Linked DNA regions of Homo sapiens. The protein of the gene in region 3 interacts with the protein of the main gene of each other region in a pairwise test. Each region holds a gene or a part of one and is shown on either strand. Other genes may lie near its edges. The genes, in order: WNK4, SLC12A2, STK39 and AATK.

Region 1 (7,024 bases), on a different chromosome or scaffold from region 3:
CTCCAGAACTGGTGGTATGCGCTGAGACACACTCTGCAACCCTCTGTGTCTCTGGCTTTGCCGGCTCATCTCCCTTCACTCTCAACTCTGTACTGACTACTCCTCCATCCACATCTCTCCAGCCCTGCCTGACCCATATCCATGGCTATGGAGGGTCTTGTCTTGGCTGTCCCTTCTTCACTCAAGCTCATCATGACCTCCTTAAAAAAAACCTTCTTTCATTTCTAATTTCCTCTCTCCTTTGGTGGCCTACTCTCCTACTCTCCTTTGGTGGCCTACAAGTTGTCCTTGACATCCCTTCTCCCTAACTCCCAATCATATCAACTCAGCAAATATTTATTGAGCATCTACTATGTACTATGTTCTCTACTACGTCAATAGGTTACTGGATTACAGAGTAACTTATTTTCCCGAAACAACCCTCAGATTCACCCTTTCTCCTCTTCCCTCCCATAAGCCACTCTCTCCTTTGTCCACAGATGGCTTCCTGGGTCTACCTCCCAGGTATTTTCCCTTCCCCCTTCCACATCCCATGGCAGATGATTTTCATAAAGCCTACTGTCACGTTACACTGTGCCTTTTTGTTTTTTTGTTTTTGTTTTTTTTTGAGACAAAGTTCACTCTGTCTTCCAGGCTGGAGTGCAGTGGCGTGATCAAAGCTCACTGCAGCCTTGACCTCCCAGGCTCAAGTGATCCTCCCACCTCAGCCTCCCAAGTAGTTGGGATGACAGGCATGTGCCGCCACACACGGCTAATTTTTTAAATTTTTTGTAGAGATAGGGTCTCATTATATTACCAGGGTGGTCTTGAACCCCTGGGCTCAAGCAATCCTCCTACTTCATCCACCCAAAGTGCTGGGATTACAGGTGTGAGCCACTGGACCTAGCCTGCTCTGCCTCTCTATTTATTTATTTATTTATTTATTTATTTATTTATTTATTTATTTTTAGACAGAATCTCACTCTTGTCGCCCAGGCTGGAGTGCAATGGTGTGATCTCGGCTCACTGCAACCTCCGCCTCCCGGGTTCAAGCAATTCTCCTGCCTCAGCCTCCCAAGTAGCTGGGACTACAGGCATGCGCCACCACACCCAGCTAATTTTTGTATTTTTTAGTAGAGACGGGGTTTCACCATGTTGGCCAAGCTGGTCTTGAACTCCTGACCTCGGGTGATCTGCCTGCCTCGGCCTCGGCCTCCCAAAGTGCTGGGATTACAGGTGTGAGCCACCACGCCTGGCCTCTGCCTAACTCTTAACATTGTCTATTCTACAATCTGGGCCCACTCTACCTACCCGGCTTCACTCCCCACAACTCTCCTATAGGAATCTTTACTTCCAGTGATAGTGGTTTCCTCATGAAGCCCTCCCAGCCCCATATTCCAAGACACTCTCTACTTGGAATGCCTTTGCTTATGCTGTCCCTGCACAGGGACACCCTTCATGGCCTTTCCACCCTTCACAGCCTTTCTTGCCCATTTGCCAAGATCCTGGGTAAGCTCATTGCCCCTGCTGCCCAGTCCATCCTTCACCTACAGCCACAGTATTGCACATCTACCAGGCACTTATACGTAGCACTTGTGTGTACCCGGTCAATGTGAGTCTCAAATTGCTCCAGCTGAGAAGCCAAACCTCACTGGATAAACAGAAATCTCCCCCAAAACAAGGGCTGAGACATCTTCAGCGTTACTGTGCTAAGTGTCAACCAGAGATTTAAAAATGCTTGCTGTCGGATCAGTGGGTTTCAGCCCCAGCGGACATCAGGAAGGAGACTCTTGTTCCAGATCCAAACACTCTGTCCTCATCTCTCTCCCCCTCACCATGGCAGCTGCAATCTCTTCCGGGCTGTCCCCATCCAGATCAAATCGGAAGGTCACCATCTTGCTGTTATGGGTCTGTAGCTGGCACTCAACCACTCTGTCATTCTGGTCTGAGACCTTCAGATTCAAAGTCAGCAGAGGGGAGAAGGTCAAGCCCTCTTCATCATGCTGTGTCTCCACCCTACCCCAGCCAAGTGACAGCAGCCACAATGGACTTGGAGATAAGTAGACCCCACCTCTAAAGTCTGGTATTAGAAACCAGACTGGCCGCCTCTTGAGTACTAGTCATACACTGCTTCTCCCGTTTTCTGGGTGACCTCCCCCGCCTCCCCCTGACACTTCCCTCCTGGCCCTGTAGGTTACTCTCTATCTCCTGTACTCCATCCTTACACTAGTGACCCGCAGCCGGGATCGGGGTCTGCGCCGGAGATTCCTCCCTGGGGGTCTCCTCATTTGTCCCATCCCTTCTCCCACATCGCTAAGGCCTGAAGCTGCATCTGAGGCATAGCTGTTAAAGAGAAAGGAGAGAGAATGACTGTCAGAGCAGACACTGGGACCCCAGTGCCCCAGGTGTCTCACCCTGGCACCCCAACTTGTACCAGAACATACCTGTCCCCGGGGGAAAAGTCACTTCCAGGGCCAGAACGTGGAATGGATAGGGCAAAAGCCTGAAACAGGATAAGGGTTCATGAGGTCAGGGGAAGATAACTGTTGAGATCTAGGGAGATGGTGTCAAGGATGCTGGGAGGATATTAGGGAGATGGAATTAGGGAAGAGGAGGGCAAGAATGGTGGATTTCCAGGGACATGGGACTGGATCATGAGATTGGGTTTCACAAGGAGGGAGATAGGTCATAGGCTTGGAATGGCTGGGAGCCCCCCATGCGACCCCCTCTCACCGAGGGCAGGCAGAGATGGGACTCAGCCAGGCTGGATGGCACCCCCCCAGGGGGCTGAAGGGCAGGGTCTGAGGCATCCAGGAAGCCGGAGGAGCTGAGGTAGCCATCAGTCTCGCAATCCGCTGGTTGGGGAGGGAGAGGATCAAAAAAAGGGGAAATAAAAGGGAATAGTGGCAGAGGATGGGGCCTGCCTAAGCAAGGAGGGGCCTGGAGCTGTGGGAGAGTTCCTTCCTGGAGGGAGCTTCATGGCTAGAGGTGGAAGGCAGGGTAAGTGACTGCTGTGGGGGTGAACTTCTGGGTAGGGGGCAGAGGCCAAGGTGTTCTGGGACCTACGTCTCAAGATCAGGGGTGACTTACAAGTGGTAGATGAGTAGCTGGCGTGGCGGAAAAGGAAGGGCTGGTGCTGGTCTGCCTCTGGCTCCTCAGGCTCAGGGGGGAAGACACTGGGGGGACCGGGGGCCATGGGCACAGTTGCTGGTGGAGGTCCTGGCTCTGGTGGGAGTGCCTCCAATTCCCTTGCTTTACGCAGCTTCTCACGCTTTCGCTGGATGGCAGCAACCCGTTCACGTACTGCACGGGCCACTGGCTGGTAATCGGCTTCACAGACCAAGCCCAGAGCCACCTGGAATTGGGGTGGGGGATGAGGAACACAGCTTGGGACCCCCTATCAAAGATCCATCAGGACGCCTTCTTGGGAACTCCAGGATATGGGAGGAAGAAAACCAACACTTACTGATTACCCACTATGTCTGTTAACTGGCAGCTCCTTACATTATCATCACTAGATCCTCCAAACAACCTTGTGGGATAAATCTTACCATTCGATTTTTAGAGATTAATGAAGTAGCTGGTTCATAGTTATACAGTAAGTCAGTGGTTTCCAATGGGAAGAAGAGATGTTTGGCACTATCTAGAGACATTTTTAGTTGCCACAACTGGAGGGTAGGTGCTACTGAATCTAGTGAGCGGAAGCCAGGGGTTCTTCTCAACATCCTACAATGCACAGGACAGTCCCTAAAACAAACATGTCAACAGTGCCAAGGCCAAGAATCCCTTGTCAGCAATGGATCAAGATTTGATCTCAGGTCAGGTTGGGCCGTGCTATGGAGACCTGCTCTAAATTTCTAACACATTCTCAGATTCTTGACCTACCGTAGGTGGTCTCCACCCTTGCAACTGTCATGTCTCTATTAAGAATCCCATACTCGGCCAGGCACGGTGGCTCACACCTGTAATCCCAGCAATTTGGGAGGCCAAGACTAGTGGGTCACTTGAGGTCAGGAGTTCGAGACCAGCCTGGCCAACATGGTGAAACCCCGTTCCTACTAAAAATACAAAAATTAGCTGGGCGTTGTGGCTTTTGCCTGTAATCCCAGCTACACAGGAGGCGGAGGCAGGAGAATTGCTTGAACCCAGGAGGCGGAGGTTGCAATGAGCTGAGATAGCGCCACTGCACTCCAGCCTGGGTGACAGAGTGAGACTCCATTACTCCCAAAAAAAGAATCCCATACTCCCTTCAGGACTTCCTAAGCCAGCCCCCAAGCTTCTGCCCTTGCATCTTATGCCTCTCCCCTTCTACCAGCTTCCATTCATCACCTCCTCATTCCTTTTAGCCGCAAGCTTTGCTGAATGAGTAAAGGAGGTGGGGAAGGGTAACCTGATTTAAAATCTGAACCACCTCAGTTTCAATCCAGCTCTTCCACTTACTTACTTGGGGCCCTGGACAAGGTATTCAACCTCTCTGAATTTCCATTTCCTCATCAACAAGTTGAGATAAAACTGCCCCCTATGCAGGATGGGTAGCAAAGATCAAATGCATGTGAAAGTGCTTTAAGCCATGTACAGATGTAGGCTATTAATGAGCTCTTACTATGTGCCAAGCACTGCCAGGGATAGAAGAATCGATAAAACACAGTCTCTGCCCTCAGGGAGTTTATAGTCTAGTGGAGAAGAAAGATAGGAACTTATTCAGGTTTAAGACAGGACCGATAGTGGGGAGTGCTGTAACCGAGAACATGCTGAAGTGGAAAGAAGCATTTAAGTTTGACTCCAAAGGGGACGGCTTCCCGAAATCGATGGTTCTGATCATATTGGAAGAAAAAGAAAAAGAAAAATGGGGAGGGAGGAAAGAAGGAAAAGATGAATTGGCAAGAAGGGCATCCCAGGAAGAACAGATCAGCTGGAGGTAAAGCAGGGACGCTGGAGGACCCAGGGCTCCCTCTGTAAAGGAAAACTGGGTGTGCGTGCGGGTAAGTTAGGGCTGGAGAGGTAGGGAGACGCTGCAGGAGATTTTGAGAGGGGTGAGGTGCCCCGCCCCCATCGCTGCCACCCCTCCTGCGCCCCATCCCTGTTGCACTGTCCCCTCGAGTCAATGTCCTTTACACGTCCAGTGGCAGCACAGTCTGTCCTCCGCTCACCATCTCCTGTGCCACCTCCTCGGCCGCGTCCCGGCCCAGCTGGAACAGGAACTCGATGGCCTGGTTGTCCCGTGGGCGCCCCCCGCGCCGCGCGTCCTCCATGCGCAGCCAGAGCTTGAGGCCCGGCTTCTCGCCGTCGTCCTCCTCCGCTAGTTCCACGTGCACACCGCGCTCCTCGCGGAAGAAGGCGTGGGCCAGGAGGTCCTGGATGGTGAACCTGAGGGTGACGCGTGGGTGAGCCGAGCCCGCCGCGGCCCGCGGCCCTATTCTACCCACGCTCTGCCCTTTCACCCCCACCTCTCGTTCTTATCCGTGCGGATGCAGCCTTCAATGATCTCCTTCACCTCGGGTATCTTCACCTTGTGGAAGCTGTTCGGCTTTCTGCCCTGGGGAAGGGGTTGCATGACACCTCCCGTCCTCTGATCCCCAGCTCTCGGCTTGACACCACCCCCCACCCCTTACTCCACTCCCTCCTTAGGCAGCTGCGCGTGCAGTTGCAAAAGCCTGACTGCTACTGGAAGATGTGATTTCAAATCCTAATCCCCGCCCCCCCCCCAAGTATTTACAGTGTGATCTTGAACAAGTCTCCCGCTGTTTGTTCATCTGTAAATCGCAGGGTGGAACATTTGCCCCGCTCACCTCACAGGGCAGCTGGAAGGATTGGATGAGAGATGGGATGCGAAATCATTTGTGAACTCTTGGGAGCACCACACATATTATTATTCTAAATAGCGTGTACTGGTGGGGGCGCGTGTGCACTCAATATCCTTCTGTGTTCACCAAGGCGACTCTGTGTCTAGCCTGTTTTCGTGCAGGCAAAGGGCATTGACTGCGGGCTGGCCGGCGCAGGAAAAGGGGAAGTGGCCCTGGAATTGCCTTTCCCGCCAGCCCCATCCCTCTCACCGAAGTGACCTTGCGGTAGATTTGCGCGGCATTCTGGCACTCGGAGTACGGGTACTCAGAGGTGGCCATCTCCAGCATGCACATGCCGAACGCGTACACGTCCACGGCCTCATCGTACTTTTCCTCGTACATCTCGGGGGCCATGAATTCCGGGGTCCCTGTAGGGTCCACAGCAGGGATCAGATTGCTGGGCACTCTGGCCTCGTCCTTCCCACTGGGCTAGGCAGCCCCAGGCAACCCTGCGAGTGCAAGTGACCCCGGCCCACAGTGGGGTTGAGGTGGGTGCCATAGGTCTCCTCAGCTTCCCTGTCGTCTGGTAGTTTTGTGGACCTTGAAGGCCCTTGCTGAGGGGAGGGAGTCCCCAGGTTCTCTTCTGAGGTGGGGGAGGAAGGAATGGCATGGACCCTCCTGGAGAGACGCACCGATGACACTCTTGGCAAAGGAGGCGCGCTTGAGCGTGGCCAGGCCCAGGTCCCCGATTTTGACAGAGCCAGTAGGTCCCGTGATAAAGACATTGTCGCACTTGAGATCCCGGTGCAGGATGGGAGGAACCCGGGAGTGTAGGAAATGAAGTCCCCGCAGGATTTGGCGGCTCCAGCGCTGAAGGACCCGCGGCTTCATCTCCCGGAACCGCCTCAGGTACCTGGGGGAGGGCGCATAGCCAGAGTCCTGGTGGGGGGACACGTCCTCCGGGAAGGAGCCCCCCACTGGGAAGTTCCCCCCTGCCGCACCCTGCTGCCGCCTCCGCATCTTCTGCCAGCATTCTCCTAGCCTATGTCTGCCCGGCCCCAGGGAGAAACTGAGTCAGGGGGCATGGTGGATAGACATGACGTTACCAAACGGGTTGGGAAGTAAATTGATAGATAGGGCCTCGGCCAAGGTGCTGTGGGAGCGCAGGAAGGGATGACTAACTGCCCCAAGCATGAGGGAGAGCTTCGGAGAGGAAATACTTTTGTGTTGCATCTTGAATGATGAGTAGGAGCTCAAAGGTG
Region 2 (7,024 bases), on a different chromosome or scaffold from region 3:
GCTGCAGCTTTGTTGGTGCAAAAGTCATTGCGGTTTTTGGCATTACTTTCAATGTCAAAAAATGCAATTACTTTTACACCAACCTAATAGGATGGTAGCAGCTTAGATGAAAAGAATATTTAGAAATTCAAGTTGACAGAACTCAGTGATTGGATGGGGGAATGAGAGAAAAGTGTCAAGGATGACTCATAGGTTTCTCACTTTTGCAGTATGATGAATAGTGGTACCATTCCGAGAGATATAGCACACACTGGCAGAGGGCCTGGATTCTTGTTTCTGGAGGGAATGGGAAGAAATACTAAGTTTGTGAGCTTGAGTTATCTTTGAGACATAAAACAAAAATGTCAAGCAAGCATTGGATACCCAGAACTCAGAGGAGTGTGGGTAGAAGACGAAATTTCGGGAGTCATTGGACTACAGATGATGTAGCATAAGGAGAGAAAAAAGAGGAACAAGGAAGGAGAAAAGTCCAAATAAAGCCTTGAGGATGTTCAGGTTAGAGAAGGAGGCGACTGCAAAGGATGCGAGGCTGAAAGAGTCAGAAAGGCAGAAGGAAAACTAAGAAGCCAAGGAAGTGACCAAAACACTTCAAAAGAACACCAAATGCTGCCTGAAAGCTGAACACTGCTCAAAACAAAACAAAACAGAACAAAACAAAAACTTCCTGAAATTTGTGATAAGAATGGAGATCACTTGTGACTTTAACAAGAACTATTTATGCAAAATAGAAGCCACACTACAGCAGTTTGAGTAAAAGGTAAGGAAGGAAAGACGGCAATTATAAACAATACTCTCAACAAGTCTGGCTGAGGAAGGAAGGAAAGAGCTTGTACCTGGAAAGGAATGAGAGTTAAATAAAATATTCCGCTTTTTCTGTCAGATAGAAGCTACTCAAATTTCTTTAACAGAAGTAAACTATTGACAGGAACAGTTAAATATCCAAGAAGAAAAATGAAAATCATAGGACCTCAGAACCAAACTGCCAAGTACTGTTTACATCTACACTGTCCAATATAGTAATCAAAGGTCACAAGGAGCTACTACTTCAACACCATTGAAATGTTTGTCTGAATTGAGATGTGCTGTACTGTATGTGAAAAACACACGGGGTTTCAAACTTTGTACAAAAAAAAGAAATTGAGATATCTCATTATAAATGTTTTAATATTCATTATATCTGCAATGAATGTTTTAGACACAGTGTCAAATAAAATACGGTATATTATAAATTAATTTTGCCTGATTCTTTACTTTTTTAAATGACATATGTAGTTCATATTATATTTCTATCGGACAGCACTGATAAAGACCTTAAATGGTAACAGGCCATAATCACAACAACTGCTAGTCCAAACTTCGGACTGGGGTCCTCAGTCCAGACATGCTCTGTGAAGTTTCCTACCTCTTTCCAAGACCGTCAGCCCTATAGCCCAATTCTTGAATTGCAGCTAAATGTTTTAATCACCCCCTTCCTCTCATCTTGGCTACTGCAATGGTTCCATTAAGATGATAATGGGCTTTTACCAAAGTGGTTGTGACTGATACAATGAGAGGTATTGAGATACTGGATGTGTTTCAAACGTATAATTGTTCAGATTTGCTGATAGTCTGGATGGGGATGTATGGACAGAGTAATACCTATTTAGAATGGAGTTGATATTAATGGAGAAGTCTGTGGGAAGGGCAGGTCTCTAATGATTAGGGTCCTCTAAGTCTTTCCCCACTGGAATACTCAAGCCTGCCCTGCCAAACCACCTACGCTCCCTTGCAAAAGTCTCCAAAATGGCTAGCATACCATACCAAATTCTGTTTGAAACTAAACTGATGGAAGAACTAATTCACACTTACCCAACAAAGAACTATCCCACAGGTTTCCAGAATTCTGAACCTAGATGAATATCTAATTTGTGACTATTCAGAAAAAGCACAGAATTTTTTTAAAAATTAAGGCAGGGAAATTTCTGAGTCCAATGATACTATGAGTGTACTAGCCATAATTAGCTTCTGCTGAGAGTCAACATTCCACTAAGCTATTTTTTCTTTTTGGCTTTCCCCCTTCTTCCAATTAGAAACCCCCAAGTTCTCTACCAGCTCCAAGTTTTTCATAATAGCTTTAAGCTAGTGTTGGTAGAGATCCTAGTGAAAATGGAAAAAGACAAAGGAGGGCCTCAGCTGATAGTAGCTTTCATGGTTTAAATGAGACACCACTAATGTTTTTAACTTCAGTATTTTAAGTAATTTTCCTTGTTGCTCACCCTCAGTGGGCTTTCACTTTGTGGAATCAACCCACTAGTTCCCTACCCCTTTGTACAGTATTTGAAAGACTACTAGTTTTCATGGTTTTACCTGAAGAGCAAAAGCACATTTTTACGCTAAAAATGAAAGCTGTTTTCTTAAGTTCTACTATTTAACAAACCAGTATCTGCAATTTTACCTGTTTGCCTCATTGGAGAACTAATTTGTAGAATGAAACCCTATCTTGAGTCCATCTCCCAAACCTGCCCTTCTCACAGACTTCTCCATTAATATCAACTCCATTCTAAATAGGGGGAAAACCCTAGTATTACTCTGTCCATACATCCCCTCATCCAAACCATCAGCAAATCCCAACAATTCTACCTCTGAAACACATCCAGCATCTGAACACCTCTCATTGTATCAATCACTACTACCTTAGTAAAAGTCATTATCATCTTAATGGAACCATTGCAGTAGGCTTCTAACTGGTTTCCTGCCTTCTACTCTTGCCCCCTTACAGTATATTCTCTACACAACAATCAGCGTGGTATTTTGAAAACATAAGTCAGATCATGTCAAATCTGTGCTCAAAACCCTACAATGCCTTCCCCTAAATCACTCAGAGTAAAATCCTAAGTCTTTATCATGATCTGCAAGGTTCTGCGCTATTTGGTCCTCACTACCCCCTGACTTTATCACACTGCCTCATCAATTCGGTCTTGCTGACCTCCCTGTCTCTCCATCACACCAAGCACACTCCCATCTCAGGGTCTTGGTATCTGTTGTTCCTCTGCCTAGAGTGTTCTTTCCCTGGTATCTGCATGGGGGTCACCCCTTTCTAGAGCCTGCTCACATATCAGAGGTCTTCCCTAACAATGCTAAAACAGCATCACCCAGCCATCATCTAGCCACCTTTAATTTTCCTCGCCCTGCTTTAATTTTGTTTGTTTATTGTCTCCTACCGCTAGAATGAAAGCCCCATGACTTTGTTTTGTTTACTGCTATATCCCCAGCATTTAGAACAGTGTTGTTGTTGATGTTCAACAAGGATTTGTTGAATAACTAGGTTCACATTTATTTCACTTCAGCATAGGACTATACTATAGACTTCCCAAATATATATATGTAACATATAATGAAATATCATTGAAAGCAAACACACTCCACACATAAGAACCAAGAAACTCTATTTTGGTCCTTTAAATTCTAGTCTCACAGGATTTTAAAATGTATGAACATAAATACACACAGAGAAGATATCAATTTAGCAGTGTACTGATTTTTTGCTACATTTTAAATCCCAAAATTTCTTTCCTTCTACCCAGGAAATTTTTATGCTAAAAATTAAAAGCTGTTTTCTATTTAACAAAGCAGTAGCTGCAATTTTACCTGTTTGCCGCATTGTAGAACTACTTCAGTCAGTGTACACCTGGGGGAATGCATTTAGTATTATGGGTAAGCCTGACTTCAATGGCAAGTAGCATGGGTTTAGCAGGGCAAAGCCCCTGGCAAAACTGTGAAATCAGCCAAATTTGACTTTGCCACATGTAAATATTTCTTATCAGGGTCCCACCTTTACCCAGTTCTGGACACTACTCTACTCTTCCCCTCACCCTCGAGAGACACATTCTTGTTCCCCCAGGGTGACTTTCAAGGACTAAAGCTATACACTGAAATGATTAATAGTGTGTGAAATTTCTTGACTAGGCATCAACACAGCCCACTCAGAGAAGCAGCTCATGGTTAGAGGAGATTCTGTAATTATTTAGTGTTTTACTTAAAGTCCTTGTTAAGTGACAGGAACTGCTCACCTGATTTGTACATTCCATGAACAAATCTTTATTAAGTGCCTATTCTCTGTATGAAGATAAACACTTATACAGATGCTAGTGAAGAAGTCATAATAATATTTACATCATCACATCTCTTGATTTCTGTCAGTTATATAATCATTCAACTCTCAGGAGTTCAAGGTAGAGAAATGGTGGTGGTAATCCCCAAGGGGTCCCCCTCAACATCTTTGTTATCTTAGAACAGGTCTAAGGGATAGAAAAGATAAAGAGAGAAGAACCTGCTGCTACTATGTCCTAGCATTAAAGTCAGAAAAACCTGGATGTGAAGTCCAAATTGAGCTGTACTACTATTTTTTTTTAGACAGGGTCTTGCTGTTTTGCCCATGCTGAAGCGCAGTGGCTGTTCACAGGCATAATCACAGTGCACTACAGTCTCAAACTCCTGGGCTCAAGCAATCCTCCTGCCTCAGCCTCCCAAGCAGCTGGGACAACAGGCTCCTACCATGGTGCCTGTCCTCCAGCTGCACTTTTTGTAAAAGTGGCTATTAAGCAATTTCTTGTGTTTCTTTCTTTTTTTTTTTTTTTTTGGAGACAAAGTTTTGCTCTTGTTGCCCAGGCTGGAGTGCAATGGCGCAATCTTGGCTCACTGCAATCTCCACCTCCTGGGTTCAAGCAATTCTCCTGCCTCAGCCACCCAAATAGCTGGGATTACAGGCATGCGCCACCACGCCTGGCTAATTTTGTATTTTTAGTAGAGACAGGGTTTCACCATGTTGTTAAGGCTGGTCTCGAACTTCTGACCTCAGGTGATCCACCCGCCTCGGCCTCCCAAAGTGCTGGGATTACAGGAGTGAGCCACCGCACCTGGCCAATTTCTTCTGTTTCTATTAGCTCATTTCATCTTGAGTAAAATGTGTATAAGACCTATTTCTTAGGAATTAATGAAAATCCAACAAGCAAAGTGACACATGAAAGACAATATAGTTGCTCCCTTGACCTTTCCCCTTGTTAATGAGAAAGGCAAAAATACAGGAATCATATAGAAACCCTTGACATACCACCAGCAAAAGGCTCCTAAGCCTTGGCCCAAGGACAACTGCAATGGTAATGCTACCTTTAAAAACAAAAATATTAGAAATTATGGTTTAGCAGTCAAAATAGTAAAACACAAAATAGTAAAACACACACACAAAAAACAAACAAACAAAAACAAAAAACTACTTTAATAATGCTTTAAATCCAGTAGGAGCTAGTATGGATTGTCTACCACTCCACTTTCCACATTTGATAATCTAGCATTCCATCATACATGTTGAAGATGTCCATCAAATACTTTGTTACCCTCCACCTTTTATTTCTTCTTGTAGGGCCAAAAATCCATACTTTGATTTTTCACTCTGTGTGTGTACGTATATACATTTTTAAATCAATTCCTAGCATCAGCTTTGAAGAGTTTCTGCCTTTCCAAAAACTCTTTTCTCTCAGCTTCCCCCAACACTGCTCTCCAGGCTATTTGACAGTATGGCAGCTCTTCCTTAATTTCCTTTGCTAATGGCTCCTCAATCTCTAACAGACCTTTAAACAATCTCCAAGTCCAATGCCAGACCCTATTTTCTGTTCTCTTATCTACCACTCTCCCTAAGTAATTTAGTCCATGACCTTAAGCAACCAAATCTTTATATGTAAATATATATATTTACATATGTTTATATACAGACACACACACACACACACACACACACACACACAGAGCCTCCTCCACGACTCTTGGAATAAGTTGTCTTTGTCTTTATAGGCTACTGAAACAGAATAGCCTCAAATACAAACTTCTCCCAACCACCAAATCTATTCCTCCTCCAGTATTTCTCATCTCAAGCAACAGTACCAACATCTATTAAGTTTCTCAAGTTCAAAATCTACAAGTCAGCTTCTTTCTCACTCCCACATCCAATCCTTTGTGCCACCAACCTTTACTATCTCTCAACCAGACCACAGTAATCACTTGAGTCTCTTTGCTTCCATTCTTGCCCCTGCCAATCCATTCTCCACCCAGAGCCTAAAGATGTTAAAACAAAATGGGTCATGTGGCTACCCCACACAAAATTCTTCAATAGCGTCCCACTACATTTATAATGAAAAATAGTTATCTCCTTTTAGTTATGTTAATATACCACTCTTTCTCACCCCATTACCTTCATGTGCGCTGTCCCTTTGGTCAGGACTGTCATTCCACCCAATCATCAACTTACCCTTCAGGTCTCAGCTTCAATGTCATACTTCTCAAAAAAACGCCTTCCCAAAACCCAATTAAAATTAGGTCCTATTCTATCTTTACAAGTATCCTTTTCTTTCGTAACACTTAAAAAACAGTTATTAACTATGTTATTTGTCCAACTACTTTGTTAATGTCTGTCTAGGCAGAAGCAGTAACTGGTTTGCTAATCACCACATAATCCCACAATGTCACAAGCATGTTGTCAACATCTAAGATACCCCCTTCCCCAATAACTCATAAATGGAGAACTCATGCCTACTGGTCCTAGAATGGCTATATAATATAGCAAGATGCACCAAGGATATTTATCTTTTCCCCTACAGTTGGACATCTAGACAAAATACTTTTAAAAAGTCAGTGATGGATAATGAAAGGAATTCAACTGGAGGGAAGACAATCCAGTCCTTTTCCCTAACAAGTTTCTGAAGTATTTTACTTCTTTTCTTCTTCTGTAGTTCCCAACACAGAGTTAGTCCCATGGTAGATAATTATGCACTTAGTAGACCAAAGTAGAGTATATGCCAATCAATCGACTGCTAGAATTAGGTGTTATAAAAATTCTAAATATTATAATTCACTGAAGGCTAGAAACATTACAGAAGGTGTTAGAGAGGTAGAAGTCAATTTAGACAGAGTAAGGGACAACTTCTGGGGATCCAGCCAACCTGTTATAACCCCTCCTGTCTGCCCCTCTTTCGACAGTGATGTATAGTCATAT
Region 3 (7,024 bases):
CTGAACTTGTGGTTAAGCACTTTTGCTTAAACATTACACGCAGAAGTTAGCAGTTCAAACACTGAACCAGTTTCAACATGAATGCCAGTTGACAGCCTTTGCTTCTACCCGCCATACGGCAGGTGTCATATGATATGACTCCAGCAGTGTGAACCGTGACCAGCAGCAGGAGGCTCAGATGTGCCTGAACAGAAAACCAAAGGAGGCACCGTGTTTTAACTTTCCAGCATGGCACGGGCACGGAGGACTTTTTCTTCATTTCCTTCTGGGCAGAGTTTGGTCCCCCAGGATTAAGAGAGAATAAGTTTACTAAAATCCAAACAAAGCAGGTTCAGTTGTTTGACTTCAGTTTTAGAAAAATAAACACAGGATTTTGCAAACCTAAAAATAAAGTTTTCTCTTTATTGTATTGTTGTTCTTGTGTTTTAAAACGTCAGTGGAGAAATTGTAATGCTCTTAGGAGTATTCTGGTTCATAAGTTTATTCATGACCTGGAAATGATGTAAAATCGATGGGAGGGAGCTTTATATTTACAGAGGGGTTAAAAATGTTGGAAATTATTAAATTCCTTCTTCCAGACATTGATATCCTTGTCTTAGTAGATTTCAAATATTTCTGTCTTTTTGGAGGCTTTCCGACCTGTTTATACTCTTCAGCCTTGTTAATCTTTGTTCCTTACCTCTCTAAAGAAGGAATTTGGGGGTGAGTTGAGCCCCCAAAAGTAGGTACCCCTACCTTTAGAAGTATAAGGGGCACTTAAAGCTATGCCAGTTGAAAACTTAGTTTATTTGTTGGGGGTGTTAATAATATTACCTAGATTTGCTAAACAGGGAATGAAAGTGAATCATATAAGTGTTTACTTGGCCATCCGTAATGGAATGGAGCAGCCTCAATGAACTTCTCATTCAAAGAATTGTAGTCATTGAAGTACTAATTTCTGTATTTGAATTAGGTGATTCCAGCAATGTTGTTATCTTTGCTGAATTTCTTCTGAGAAACCCTAGACTCCTGCCTCAGCAGGAGTTTGTTTGATTTTCTTAGGGTTTTTGCAGGATGCACCTTTCTTTATGTAGTTTTATACTAGATTTCTCAGCATTGCTTCACTTTTGTCCCGGGTGGTCATTTAGAATGACCTAAAAGTAACAAATTGCCATCTTAGTCAACACGAAGAATTTGAGTTCTAGAATCCTGGACATGGTTTGACAGAGGGTTCCTTTGAATGCTTTATTTCTCTCCTGTGAGGCATTGTTTATCCATTCAGGTGCGTTTTACTCAGGTCCAGGTAATAGCACATATGGCCAGGTCTTTAAGGAGCAACAGCCTCTTGTAAAATGAGATTGTAAATAGCCCTGGGCATTCCCACTTTGCTCTGTGCTCTCAGAGTTTCTGTGGATTTCTATGGTTTGGGGGTTAGAATTGGTTTTTATAGATATCCTAGAGGCAGTTTGAGGACAGTGGTACCTTCGCTGGCGCTAGGGTAAGGGAGCCGGAGCACTGAGTGTGTTCTGATCTCCCAGACCTTTATACCAGGCTGCCTTGCTGCTGCAGTGGGTTCTTTGATCTTGATTAGTTTGTTTGTTGTTGTTTTTAAAATACTAAATGATGTCTGAAATGCTTTGTCTCAAGACAGGGCTTTGATTTTCATTTCATTTCACTTTCTTTTTTAATAAATAGAAAAATGTATATAGAAATGTTCTTTTGTATTTTGTATTTTTTTTTTTTTGATAAAGGGTCTCACTCTGTCACCCAGGCTAGAGTGCAGTGGTGCAATCATACCTCACTGCAGCCTCGAACTCTTGGGCTCAAGTGATCTTCCCACATCAGCCTCCTGAGTAGCTGGGTCTATAGGTGCAAACCATCATGCCTGCCTAATTTTTTTTTTCTTTTTTTATTTTTAAGAAATGGGGGTCTCACTATGTTGCCCAAGCTGCTCTTGAACTCCTCCGCTCAGCGATGCTCCGGCCTTGGCTTCCCAATGTGTTGGGATTACAGGCGTGAGCCACTGTGCCTGGCCTCTTTATATATATATATATATATATATATATATATATATATTTTTTTTTTTTTTTGTAAGAGTCTTGCTCTGTTGCCTGGGCTAGATTGCAGTGGCGCCATCTCAGTTCACTGCAGCCTCTGCCTCCTAGGTCCAAGCAGTTCTCCTGCCTCAGCCTCCCGAGTAGCTAGTATTACAGGCCTGGCTAATTTTTGTATTTTTTGATAGAAACAGGGTTTCACCATGTTGGCCAGGCTGGTCACAAACTCCTGGTCTGAAGTAACCCGCCTGCCTCAGCCTCCCAAGTTGCTGGGATTACAGCGTGAGTCACTGTGCCCGGCCTCTTTTGTATTATTTTTATTGTGGTAAAATATACACAACAAAAATTGTACCATTTTAACCGTTCTTAAAGTGTGCAATTCAGTAGCATTAATTATATTTACAAGATAAATACTCTTTTAAATGTGCTGTCATGGGGCTGGGGGGAGAGATCTCAAGATCTCTCTTGAAACTGTGGTAAAGTGACTGCAATCCTTTATTTATGCATTTGATTTTTAACTAGTGATATTATGAATTCTTCCCTGACTTTTATGGTTTATTGTATAGTACATTTTGTGATGGTGTTTGAAAATAAGTTGCAGCAGTGCCGGCTCTGGAGTCTGACAGCCTGGCCTGTTTCATGTCCTGCAATGGCGGTCACTGACGCTGCGACCTTGAGCAAATGACTTAGATGTGTCTGCACTCAGTTTCCTCATTGGTAACATAGGGATGATAAAAATAGGGTTGTGAGGAATGAGAGAATGTAAAGCACTGAGAATCGTGCCTGGCACACAGCATGCTTTCAATTAGTCTTAGCCATAACTTCTATAGACTTCATTTGCTAATCAGATGCAAGTTATCAGGAGAGAACACAGTCCTATCTTTGGCAGGATTCTGGAGTGGCTTGAAGATTTCTGTGCTATGTTTCTAGCAGGGAGGAAGTGGGAAAGAGAGGTTGTTCCCTATTCCCACTCTTGTGCTGGGCTGCTGGAAGGGGCTTACAAGGGGAGAGGCCCCTGGGGATCTGGCTTCCCCTTGCACCTCCACTGCTGTGGGAGGAAACTGAAGAGACCTGTGGAGCTCCTGGCAATTTGGACAGCTCAGGGGTTTAGGTGCCAAATGGCCCTCTGACAAGTGATGAGAGCATCCTGCGGGAAGGTTGCTGAAGAGGAGCAGCCCATTATGAGAGGGCTCCGAGAACAACCTGCTAGGACTGCACTTTTCCTCCACCTCTGAGTTTGCCCGGAGGCTGCCATGCTGGCAGGAAATGCTGCTGACTAAAAGAAACGCTCCCTGTGTGTCCCAGCCAGTGCGAGGACAGAGGCCTTCATTTTCAGATAAAGTCATCACCATTGCTTCCCTGTCTCCTTCTTTCCCTCTTTGCTTTTCCCTCAGTTTATAAATATTCTCAAGCCTGTCTCTTATGTTTAAATGACAAAAGAGAACAAAACAAAACACTCTCCCTACTTCTTTCTCCTCTGGCTACTCGGTTATCTCGTTTCTTCCTTTCACTGCTAAATTGTTGGAAGGAACCTCCCATTCCCTCTCAGCCCACTGCAGTCTGGCTTCTGCCCTTTCCCTAAGAAACCCAAGTTACTCTCTGAAATCACTGTGACTCTTCTGTGGCCAGAGCCAGTGGACACTGCAGTCCTTTTCTCTGCTCTCTGCAGGGTTAGGTGCCATCTTTCATTCTCCTTTTGGAAAGGCATTTGCTTGAGCTTCCATGCCATGCCTTCCTTCTGGACTTCCTGTACTCCCTTGCCTGCCCCAGATCCACATCTCTGTCTGTCTGAAGCTTCAATTACCACATCAAATGCTGAGGGTCTTCCTGACTGTATACCAGTGTTTGGACTACCTTTTTAATGTCTTCGTTTGAATGTTTCACAGGAACTTCATACAGTTAAACTCATTGTCTCTCCACCCTGGCCTCAGTCCTAATCTTGTTTCTTCTATATTCATCATCTTTAGAGCCCTCAAGGGCAAAACCTGCTGGCCATCCTATACTTTCCTGTCTTTGTCCATCTCTCACATCTGTTTGGTCACCAAGTCCTAAATACTCCACCTCCTTGAGATCTTCTTTGATTTGACTCTGACTCTTCATGTCAGCCACCACTGGTTTAGTTCAGGCCCTTATCGATTCTTATTTGGATTATTGTAATAATTTCCTAACCAGGTTCCTTTTTTCCATTCTTGTTTCTGGCTGTAGTGTGCATTGCTACCAGAAAGATACTGCTATACCAAAATTCTTGATCACGTTGCTCCCAGGCTGAAATGCCTTTAGTAGCTCTCCCGTCACCCTCAAGACTTAATTTGAAGCACAGTGTTTAAGGTCTTTTGGGAATTGTCTCTTGCCTCCCTTTTCAGCCACATCTTGTAATTTCCAGTCTCAGGACAGACTCTCCAGCCAGTGGGAACCTTTTGCAGTTGCTGAAATGCCTCTTCTAGGCAAGATTTCCCTCTGCTTGGAACACCATTCCAAGACCCTTCCCTTCCATTTTTCATCTATGTAGCAAAGAGCTCTGTCTTTTCTTTTAAATATTGCCCTTATTGAAGTATAATATGCATGTGGAAAAGTGTACATATAAAAAATGTATATCTTGGTGCATGTTCATGAATTGAACACACCATGTAACCAGCACCCTGACTGGGCCTCTCTTCTCATACCCTGAACAAGTGATTTCTTGTCACACAAACAATCTCTGCCTCTAGAGCCCCCCTCCCCCCTTGCCCTTCAGGCTCTGTTGGGTCTTTCGCTCCCTGGCAGTTGTCACACTATCTGCAAATTGTATTTTCCTTGCCAGCCTGGCTCTAGACTGTTAAGTCTTCCTTGAGGACAGGGTCTCTCATCTCCCTACCCTGCATGTCATAATAGATATTTAATAAATGTTTTCTGGATGAAGTTCTGAGTTTTGGGGATAAATACTCCTTCCTCACCTTGTGGAGGAGGAACATTGCCTGACGTCTAAAAATTTGCCTCACTGGATCCTGAGGATTTGATCTTGCCCGTGGTTAATGATGGGGTTTATTTAGTTGCGTTTGGGCCAATCAGCTTAAAGGGCTCTGTAGAAATTAGCTCATTAATCCTCACAGATCAAGAGTAAGCACTTTGAGTGCGTCCACCTGCCTGTGTTGTGGAGGTAGGCAGGCAGAGGCCTGGCTCTCCTGAGGTCTTAGGACTGAGAGGTGGCCTTTCTGGCTGGATTAAAGGACCCAGAGCTCCCTGCCACAGTTCTGGCATCCGTAGACATTGTAGGGTGGAGTGGGGAAGTCCCACACTGCCCTTCAAAAGCTCTAGAGCTTTCTTTTCTTTTGTATATCAGTGATCTCTCTCTCTTGCTGTTCATGTATTTATATATAACACTCACCTTGAAGTTCTGTGGAGCCTCTTCCTGTGTAGGAATCAGGGCTGCTGGAGACGATCAGGGATGCAGGTGAAACACAGGAGCAGAATTGCAGAACAAGTGGCTTTCAAAGGTTGTTAGGATGGCAGGAGTTCTATTTTTATAACTTATAAGGGACTGACATGATAGGATGGCTGTGGTACCTGCTAAGACCATAGAACCGGGTCATTCTAATAGATGTTATAATTCCTTTACAGTGTACTTTTTGGGAAAGTTTTTTTTTCCTATTTAAATAAAATTCTCCATGTAATCATGTGAAGTCATACGTTTTCCTCTAGGATAGTTGTGTTTAGATTATACCAAAACAGCTCTTAGTTGAAGTGATTCAAGTGTTTCTTTTTTCCCTATCTGCCATCAATTGGCCAAGTTTTTGATACTAGACAAGAATTCAATATATTAATTAAAAAGTCATTTCAGACTTGGCTTAACTGAAAAGCAGAAGAGAAAAATCCTTTAGAGAATGGATTGGCATACTTTATTTCTAGAGTCGATTTAGATAAATACTTTGGAATCCGATGTGAGTAAATGATATGTTTCACATTTCTTCTCACTTGCCAAACAGTTATTTGAGAATAAACTCTGGCTTAGCTTTAAGAAACTTCTTGGACATTGAGGATTGAGATTAATTGACCTTTTAAACTGATTGTGTATTTTGATATATGGGAAAACATTTTAAGATAGAAATGGTAGAGACCTCTACATTCATATTATCCCTGACTTTATTTTCAAACTTCTTCCAGGTAAGTGGCATTTAGTATAACTCTCAGAAGCCTAGTATTGGGGGTGCTCATGTGATTCTTCCCTTAGGTAAAAAATATACATTTTATTGACATTTATGGGTTTAGGTTTCTAACTTTTAGTTACCACTGGAGCTATTTGTCAGAAAAAACTAGATGGAAAGTAGAGGTGGATGACTTTCTGCCCTGTGAATGATAGATCTTCATTCAGGGAGTATTTTGGAGCCAGTGACCTGTGACAGTTGTGAGACTTCTCATAATCATTCTGTGGATGGTTGGGGTCTTAGAAGAAGTAATGATTTTGTTTTGAACTGGTTGCATCAGTTTGAACCAGAGTTTGTACTAAGGGTATTCCAACTGCTTTATTTCCTACTCTGTTTAGTCTGGGGATTGAAAAAGGATTACATTTTGGGTAGGTTGGTGCCTATTGACCTATCCTGTGTAGCTTAGATTTTAATTTGAATCATCTGGTTCTCTTTCTTTCTCTCAGGCAATGTCACTATCTCTGTTTGTTTAATTATGGGGTGACTCAAGAAAGCAAAGGAAGAGGAGCAGCAGACGGGGTTTCCTGGGGAAGGAATGGCAGGTCATGGCTGGTTTTTATAAGTGAGTTCCTAAGTGAGAAGTGGTACAAGAATATAGAGAGAATTAGGAAATTTAATTTTAGAAGAGACCAAAGGAAAAAAAATCCATCCCAGCTGCTTTGTCTTGTAACTGAAAACTCTCTAATGGCCAAAGTTGAAGAAACTTGCCTATGGTCCCAAAGTCCTTAGAATCCCAGGCTCCAACCCTTCATGCTAAAAACTCTCAATAAATTAGGTATTGATGGGACGTATCTCAAAATAATAAGAGCT
Region 4 (7,024 bases), on a different chromosome or scaffold from region 3:
CTCAATACTCCGAAGTTGGGAGGGATGCTGTACTGTCAGTTCCCCTCTGGGATGAGGGGCTCCATGGACCAGCAGCTGCAGAACGGGGTTTCCCCATGGTTCCCAGGACAGAAGCAGCACCAGAGGGGCCTGGCAGTGGGTTTGGCAAGGGGACGGATTCGAGGCAGCAGGTGGCACACGGGAGCCCTGCTGCCTGGCAGAGGCAGCACCACCTTCTCAGGGACAGTGAGGTCCCCGCACCTCAGAGGCTGGAAGGGCCTTGAGCCCCCGCTGTCCAGAGCCTGGTGTGTGGCCAGCAGATAGCAGCCAGCAACATGGTCTCCCGTGTTTGACAGAGTCCATGTTCCCTTCCCAGCCCCAGAGGGGCAAGGTGGGGTGACTGGGATCTGGGAGGGAGATGGGGGTCCCCCTGTAGCCCCTGAGACCCTGACCTCTCAGGGGTATCTGAACCCCAGAATTGGGAACTGGGCAGGCTCTGGTCACTCTGCCAACCCTATGTCCCCCTGGCGAAGCCAGGGTGGTGTCCAGTGGCTGGCTGCAGGACTGCAGGCTCTGGCCACCTCCTCGCCACACTGTGAGGTGTGGGGTCTGGGGTGAGAGGTCAGGGTGCTGAGGCCCAGCCTGGAATGCAGCAAGTCCAGGTGGGGCTGTGGAGCCCAGAGCAGGGGCAGGGGCCTGGCCGGCCCTCAGCCATGGCCACTCTCACCACACTGCTCTCCCGCAGACGGCGCCCCGCTCAGCGAGCTGTCCTGGCCATCCTCCCTCGCCGTGGTGGCTGTGTCTTTCTCCGGGCTCTTCGCCGTCATCGTCCTCATGCTGGCCTGCCTGTGCTGTAAGAAGGGCGGTATCGGGTTCAAGGTGAGGCCTGGGGGCCGCGGGAGCTGTCGTGGGATCCCGCAGGCAAGGCCTGTAGCGTCCACTTGACCCTGAGCTTCCCTCCTTCCTGGGGCCATCAAGGTGGCTGCTGGGTGGCCGTAGTTGCTGTGGGGCCACCTGGGGACCACGTGGACCCTGGCCCAGGGACTCCATAGCTCCTCCTCAGGGACCTGCCCCAGCTTCCTCGACTTTGAGGCCCTCTGTGGGGGGCGTGGTCTGACGCTCCCACTCCAGCCTGGGGTTGGGCCCGAGCACTCACGGAGGCTGAGGACAGCCTTGCAGGGGGCGTCGGGGGCTCTGGAGCTGGTGTGGGAGGGGGCTTGCCTCCCTAGAGGCCCGACTCCTGGTGGAGGAGCTGCCTCTGCAAGGGGCTCTCACGTCCCTCCGAATTCAATCTGCAAAGGGGAGTCCGGGCTGCCCAGACAAGCTTCCCGGCACAGGGACCTTCTTGCCAGTTGGAGTCACCTTGCGCGGGGTATCTTCTGCCTTCTGGAGGGGACGATGTGTGATGCTAGAGCCCAGCCTGCTGGTTAGGGAGCCCCGCCAAGGGTGAGGCCTGGCCTCACTAGGCTGCCCCTCTGGAGGCCAAGGCCCCTGGCCAAGGACAGGTGCCAAGCACTGCTCCTCCCCCTGCAAACCCCCAGCCCACCTCCAGCTGTAACTCTGAGCAGCAGGGAGGGCCAGGCAGAAGGAACCCCGGCCAGCATCGCCTCCCCCTCCCAGAGTCTCCATGGGTCCCATTCCTGCTGATGAGCAAATGACACCCTGGCCTGGACCTCTGGTGGTTCACACGCCCACGGGGGTCAGCCCCACCCCTGGGCCAGAGGTCAGATTCCTACGCCAGGAGAAGTCAGGGAGGGAGGAGGGTGGGAGGAGGCATTCTGCAGCGCGCACAGCACCCTGTCTGTATCTCAGGGTGCCTTCCTACTAAGTGACCCATGACTCAGCTGGCGCCACCCCCATTTGGGAGACAGTCCCAGAGTCCTCCCTGCCCCTGGTATGTCATGACGCAGAATGGGCCAAGGAGCTGGCTCTGCCCACCTGTCCCGCTGGCCTGGCAGGTGACGGTGCTGGATGTGGCCTTTTTGCCTTTTCTAAAGGCCACATTTTCCAGCCCATTCAACCTTCCAGAGCCCTCTGAAGTGGCCACAGGCCCCATCAACCAGTGAGGAGCTGCGTGCCTGGGGGGCAAAGCTGTGGCCCCAGGCTGTGGGGTCTGCACTCCTGCCCAGAGCCCCCACCCTGCTCTGGGATGTACCCCTGACCCGCTGGCACCAGGGGCCAGGCCAGGCCGCGCAGGCGCCTTCCTGGGGATCCCGAGGCCAGAGCCTCAAGGTCTTGGCGGGAGCAGGAGTGGAGGTGGGGCCTGGGTGGGACGAGTGGGGCTATTGTATAAGTGGCCCCTCCTTGGGGCACTGTAAGAACAAGGCCCCAAACAAGGGCTGGCCATAGCTCCTCCTCCTGCGCCCTCCTCACCTCCTTGGGAACATGGTGCCCGGAACATTCCAGCACCAGTGTGCCCCTGGGAAGTCCTGCCTCCACACTGGGCTCCCTCCTGGGATTTGGGGACCTGCGCTGGGCTCCCTGGTGGGGAGCTGTGCTGAGGGAAGGGGCTGGGCAGGCCCCCAATGCTGACCCTGTGCTACCTGATTGCACGCTGTATCGGCAGGACCCGGCTGGCCCCCGGGCAGCAGGTAATGCCTGGAGCCCGGGCCCGACCCCAGGGAGAGACAGCATCTGTGTCCTGGGCCCCTCTACAAAGCCCAGATGGGTGGGGCCAGGCCGGGGCTGGGATTGGAGGGCCCAAGAGGGGGCTTCTGGGGTGGTCTTCTGGGTCCCGGGGAGGGGAAGTTGCCCACGCAGCACCTGCGTCCCCCATCCCTGAGTGGCTGTGTGCTCCGAAAGGGCAGGCTGGGCCTGGCCTGCGGGAATACCGACAGAGCCACCTGCCCCTCTCTTTGCAGCCCAGGGAAGGGAGGCGTCCCCAGGGTCACACGTCGTACTTGAGGAGCCCAGGCCTCCCCTCCCACTGCACCTGCCTGTCCTCGGACTCACCAGCCCGGGTGCTGGCCAGCATCCAGCTGGAAGTCCCTTGACTCCTCTGAGCCTCAGCTTCCCCACCAGGGCACTGGGGGTTGTGAGGAAGGACAGAAAGGCTGTACCAAGTGCTCAGGGATTGGGGCTGTCATTGTGTGCCTGGAGCAATTGCTTTCAGCTGGGCCCAGGACTTTGGAGACTTTGGCTCTCAGCGCAGGAATGTGCCCTGGACTTGGGGGTGGGGTATCCCCTATACAGGTGCAGCCTCTACATTTCAAAATAGCAGCCTGGCAGGGAGTGGCCCAGCCCTAGGCTGCACGGGGCCAGGCTCTTAAGGAGTTCTGGGAGCTCCGGAGGTGGTGTGGCCACCAGGTGAAGGTCCAAGGCTGCTGGGGCAGATGGCGGTGGCAGGTGGGCTGCCCAGGGTAAAGGTGGCCGGTTGGCTCTGGGCTCCCAGACATCCAGGAATGCTCCTTGTCCCGGCAGGGGTGGGGGCACTTAATTGCTTCTCCCACAGGACTGTGGGGCAGGGGGTGATGGAATTCCTGTCCCCGAAGCTGCGCCATGGGAGGGTGGGACCCCAGGCACAGCCCGGGGTGAGGGGCTGCTCGGGATGTGGGTGGCTGAGAGGTGCTGGGGGCTGATTCTGGATGGGCAGGGCCAGCTGGCCTGAGTGCCCTCACCTCTGTCCCTTGGTTCCCTGCCTCTAGACCCTCAGGCCCCAAGGTGGGGCTCAGCCTGGGCTGCCCGCCAGGGAGGGATGGGGGAACTGAGGCCAGGCTGAGGCGCTGGTGCCTACAGCTCATCGCGCCCTTTCTGGAGTCTGAGATGGGTCCTCTTGGCTCTGGGATCTGCCTCTGGCCCCTCATGGAACAACTGAGCCTCTGGTCGGGGGCGTGGGGGTCAGCAAGAGGAGACAGATGGAAGGGCAGTTAGCAGGGGTGCTGGGCCATTGGCCTGCAGGGGCGGTGGCTCCAACTCTGGGCCGAGCACCCCCTCCTGCCCTGCCCTGGGAGCTCGGCCCTGGAAGAAAGGGGCCTTTCCAGGCCCAGCCACACCCTTCCTTGACCTGCGAGAAGCCCCGCTCATGCCCGGCCCGGCCCGCAGGAGTTTGAGAATGCGGAGGGGGACGAGTACGCAGCCGACCTGGCGCAGGGCTCCCCGGCCACGGCAGCACAGAACGGGCCCGACGTGTACGTCCTGCCACTCACGGAGGTCTCCTTGCCCATGGCCAAGCAGCCTGGGCGCTCAGGTGAGGGCTGGGTGGGGAGATGGGGTGGCCTCCCTCCGGGGCCCAGGTGCTGGGCGTTGGGTGTGATCTGGGGAGACCGGAAGACTCAGCTCTGGAGTGGGGGCAGCACAGGGCTGGGAGTGGCCTGTGGGGTAGACGCAGTGTGCAGCCCTGGACTCCCTGTGGCTGCGTCACAGGCCGCACTGTGGGGCCAAAGGTGCATGTACCTCTTTCTCCTGGGCCTGGGGGCCGGCCAGGGGTTGGCAGGGTCCAGGACAGCCCTCGGCCTCCAGCCTCCCCTGCCCAAGGGGCTGCTATGCACAGGGACAGGGGTGGGCACGGGGCAGGGGTGGGCACTGGGGCAGGGGTGCGGGCTCTCTGGTCCTGGACATGGCCATGTGCTGGGGGCAGGGGCTCTTCTGCAGTCCAGGGATGCTTGACCCCAGATTCCTGCCCCCTTGAGCGCCAGCCCTTCAGGGACACGGGTTCCATTGTGCATGGCAGGAGGAGGGGCGCTGGTGGGGCCCGTGTGGGCGGGTGGTGAATTAGCCTTTCACTCAGGCTGCGAGGAGGGGCCGAGGGGTGGGGCTGACCCAGGAGTGCAGGTGCAGGCAGGGCCTCAGCCACAGCCTCATCTGCCCCCATCCTAGGGTCCTAGGCCGACCACTCACATGGGGCGGACGTGCTGGGGAGTTTGGGGGTGAATGGCCAGGCTTCAGGACCTCCCAGTTCTGTCTTGGAGCCTAGGTGGTGGGTGCGGGTCCCTCCAGAGCTATCAGATCTCAAGCCCCCTCCCAGGAAGCTTCCAGCCTGAGGCTTCCCCCATCACTGCCCACCCCCAGCTCCTCTGGGAACACAGAGGCAGGAGGGGTATCAGGCCAGTGGGAGGGGCCCCTGCCAGCCCTGTTGGGGCTCTGTTGGCACCAGGGCCTGTTACTGCGGTGCCATGCAGGCCACCTCACCTGCTCTGAGCCGTGCCTGGCTGGACCCTGAGAGCTGGCTATGAACTGTGCCTGGCTGGGCCCTGAGAGCCTAGCCTTCATCGTGGGCTGAGAGGCCCAAGGCACTGGTCTGGGACCTAGAGAGGGCCCCCAGCCCCCAGCTTTGGAGCCAAGGCCTCAACGCCTGTCCTACTCTGCCCCATCTCCTGGAGGACAGGTTCCCAGTTCGGCAGGAATCAGGGCTGGCACTTGAGCTCGAGTACATCTGTGGGCGGGCGCGGAGGACTGCAGCCACCCACTCAGAGCGTGAGGCCCTCGGACCTTCCCGGATGGCTGTGGGGGTCCCTGAGCCCTGTGCTGACCCTGCTGGGAGCTGCCAGGGACCATCCGAGGGGGTACTGCCCTTGGGTCCAGGGGCAGGTGTGTGCCTGGCCCCCGAAGATTCTCAGAGCCACCTCTGGAGGATTGCTGTGGGGACTGGGGTTGGCGAACAGGAGCCCGAAAGAAGGCACTGGTTACCTGTCTCTCTACTTTTGCAGCTCTGGTTTCAGTTTTCTGGGGGAGGAATGTGCTTCTAGGGAGGAGAGAGATTGGGGTGAGGTCAGAAAAGTAGCCCCAGAGGTCAGCGGGGAGAAACCTGGGCAATGGCCCCACCCGCTGGGGACCGCAGAGAAGGACGGCTGCCTGCTGCCTCCGGCAGTGCCCAGGGCCTCTGAACTGTCTCAGCACCCATGGTCAGGACCCCCACACTTGCTCAGGGACAGTGTGGGCCTGGGCGCCCCAGGGTGAGAGAGGGCCGCCCAGACAGGCTGGGCTCAGGACACAGCACCCGGTGGGCCCACACGCTCAATTCTGCCCTGCCCCGCCTCTACATTCTCTGGGTCTCCAGGCCCTGGAAGGAGCCCCCTCCCCCTGGGCTCTCCTGGCAGCCAGGCTCAGACCCAGGCCTGTCAGCCCTCTGGGCAGTTGACGTGGGAGCAGAATTCGGGGAATCCCTCGGGGCGTGGGCAGGCATGAGTGGGCTCTGCCAGCGCTGGCCCCTTCGTCCCGGGCCTCACTGACCCTTCCTCCCGCTGACCTCACCCGGCCTGGCCCTCGGGGAGAATGGGCCAGTGTGCTCCGTGCGGGGCCGTGCCAAGCAGCCCCCAACAAAGGAGCCTTTGGTGCGCCCGGCGTGGGATGCCAGCCTGCGGCAGGGTGGGGGTGGGCCGCTCCAGTGCCCTCTCTGTGCCGTGGCCCCAGCCTCTTGCTCAGCCACACTGCCTGCCTGGTGCAGCCCATGTGACGGGTCGAGCTCCGGGCCCTGCTGTCCCTGGCCGGGCTATCCCAGTGGCTTCAGGCACCTTCTCCAGACCTACCCAGAAAGATGCCCGGATGGATCCTGCAGCTCCGTGGCTTTTCTGGGAAGCAGCGGCCCCTGCTCTCAAGAGACCCTGGCTCCTGATGGTGGCCCCAAGGTTGCCAGCTGGTGCTAGGGACTCAGGACAGTTTCCCAGAAAAGGCCAAGCGGGCAGCCCCTCCAGGGGCCGGGTGAGGAAGCTGGGGGGTGCGGAGGCCACACTGGGTCCCTGAACCCCCTGCTTGGTTACAGTGCAGCTCCTCAAGTCCACAGACGTGGGCCGGCACAGCCTCCTGTACCTGAAGGAAATCGGCCGTGGCTGGTTCGGGAAGGTACGTGTCCCGCCTGGGAGGGAGGACTCCCGCCTGGGAGGCAGAAGGGACACAGGGCTGCAGACCTGCTCCTCCTAGGAGCCACCCCAGCCCCGACGGTCCCTTCTTCAGTCTCTGGGCCCTGCTGGACCCTTCCCCAGGGAGGTCCTCAGCATCTGGCTGCATCCCCTTCTCCCTAGGGGGTCCTGGGGTCAGAGGTACCTGGGGAGGGGCCCTGGGAGGGAGAGGAGCAGCCTCTTGCTCATGGCCTTCCCCTGACCTTGGCCTA

What was found.
Region 1: the proteins of STK39 (region 3) and WNK4 interact in a two-hybrid assay, tested with the Homo sapiens proteins (one study listed by BioGRID).
Region 2: the proteins of STK39 (region 3) and SLC12A2 interact in a two-hybrid assay, tested with the Homo sapiens proteins (one study listed by BioGRID).
Region 4: the proteins of STK39 (region 3) and AATK interact in a two-hybrid assay, tested with the Homo sapiens proteins (one study listed by BioGRID).

The regions. Positions count from the first base shown.
Region 1 is NC_000017.11:42,783,588-42,790,611, reverse strand, and holds part of WNK4 (serine/threonine-protein kinase WNK4), read right to left. Parts: intron 6,676-7,024; coding exon 6,455-6,675; intron 6,191-6,454; coding exon 6,033-6,190; intron 5,516-6,032; coding exon 5,427-5,515; intron 5,347-5,426; coding exon 5,130-5,346; intron 3,335-5,129; coding exon 3,070-3,334; intron 2,835-3,069; coding exon 2,713-2,834; intron 2,483-2,712; coding exon 2,424-2,482; intron 2,323-2,423; coding exon 2,205-2,322; intron 1,932-2,204; coding exon 1,815-1,931; intron 1-1,814. UniProt on the Homo sapiens protein: Serine/threonine-protein kinase component of the WNK4-SPAK/OSR1 kinase cascade, which acts as a key regulator of ion transport in the distal nephron and blood pressure.
Region 2 is NC_000005.10:128,086,764-128,093,787, reverse strand, and holds part of SLC12A2 (solute carrier family 12 member 2), read right to left. Parts: intron 1-7,024. UniProt on the Homo sapiens protein: Cation-chloride cotransporter which mediates the electroneutral transport of chloride, potassium and/or sodium ions across the membrane. Plays a vital role in the regulation of ionic balance and cell volume.
Region 3 is NC_000002.12:168,237,592-168,244,615, reverse strand, and holds part of STK39 (STE20/SPS1-related proline-alanine-rich protein kinase), read left to right. Parts: intron 1-7,024. UniProt on the Homo sapiens protein: Effector serine/threonine-protein kinase component of the WNK-SPAK/OSR1 kinase cascade, which is involved in various processes, such as ion transport, response to hypertonic stress and blood pressure.
Region 4 is NC_000017.11:81,128,202-81,135,225, reverse strand, and holds part of AATK (serine/threonine-protein kinase LMTK1), read left to right. Parts: exon of another isoform or gene 1-724; coding exon 725-858; intron 859-1,917; exon of another isoform or gene 1,918-2,030; intron 2,031-2,931; exon of another isoform or gene 2,932-3,181; intron 3,182-3,271; exon of another isoform or gene 3,272-3,324; intron 3,325-4,020; coding exon 4,021-4,165; intron 4,166-5,604; exon of another isoform or gene 5,605-6,068; intron 6,069-6,676; coding exon 6,677-6,756; intron 6,757-7,024. UniProt on the Homo sapiens protein: May be involved in neuronal differentiation.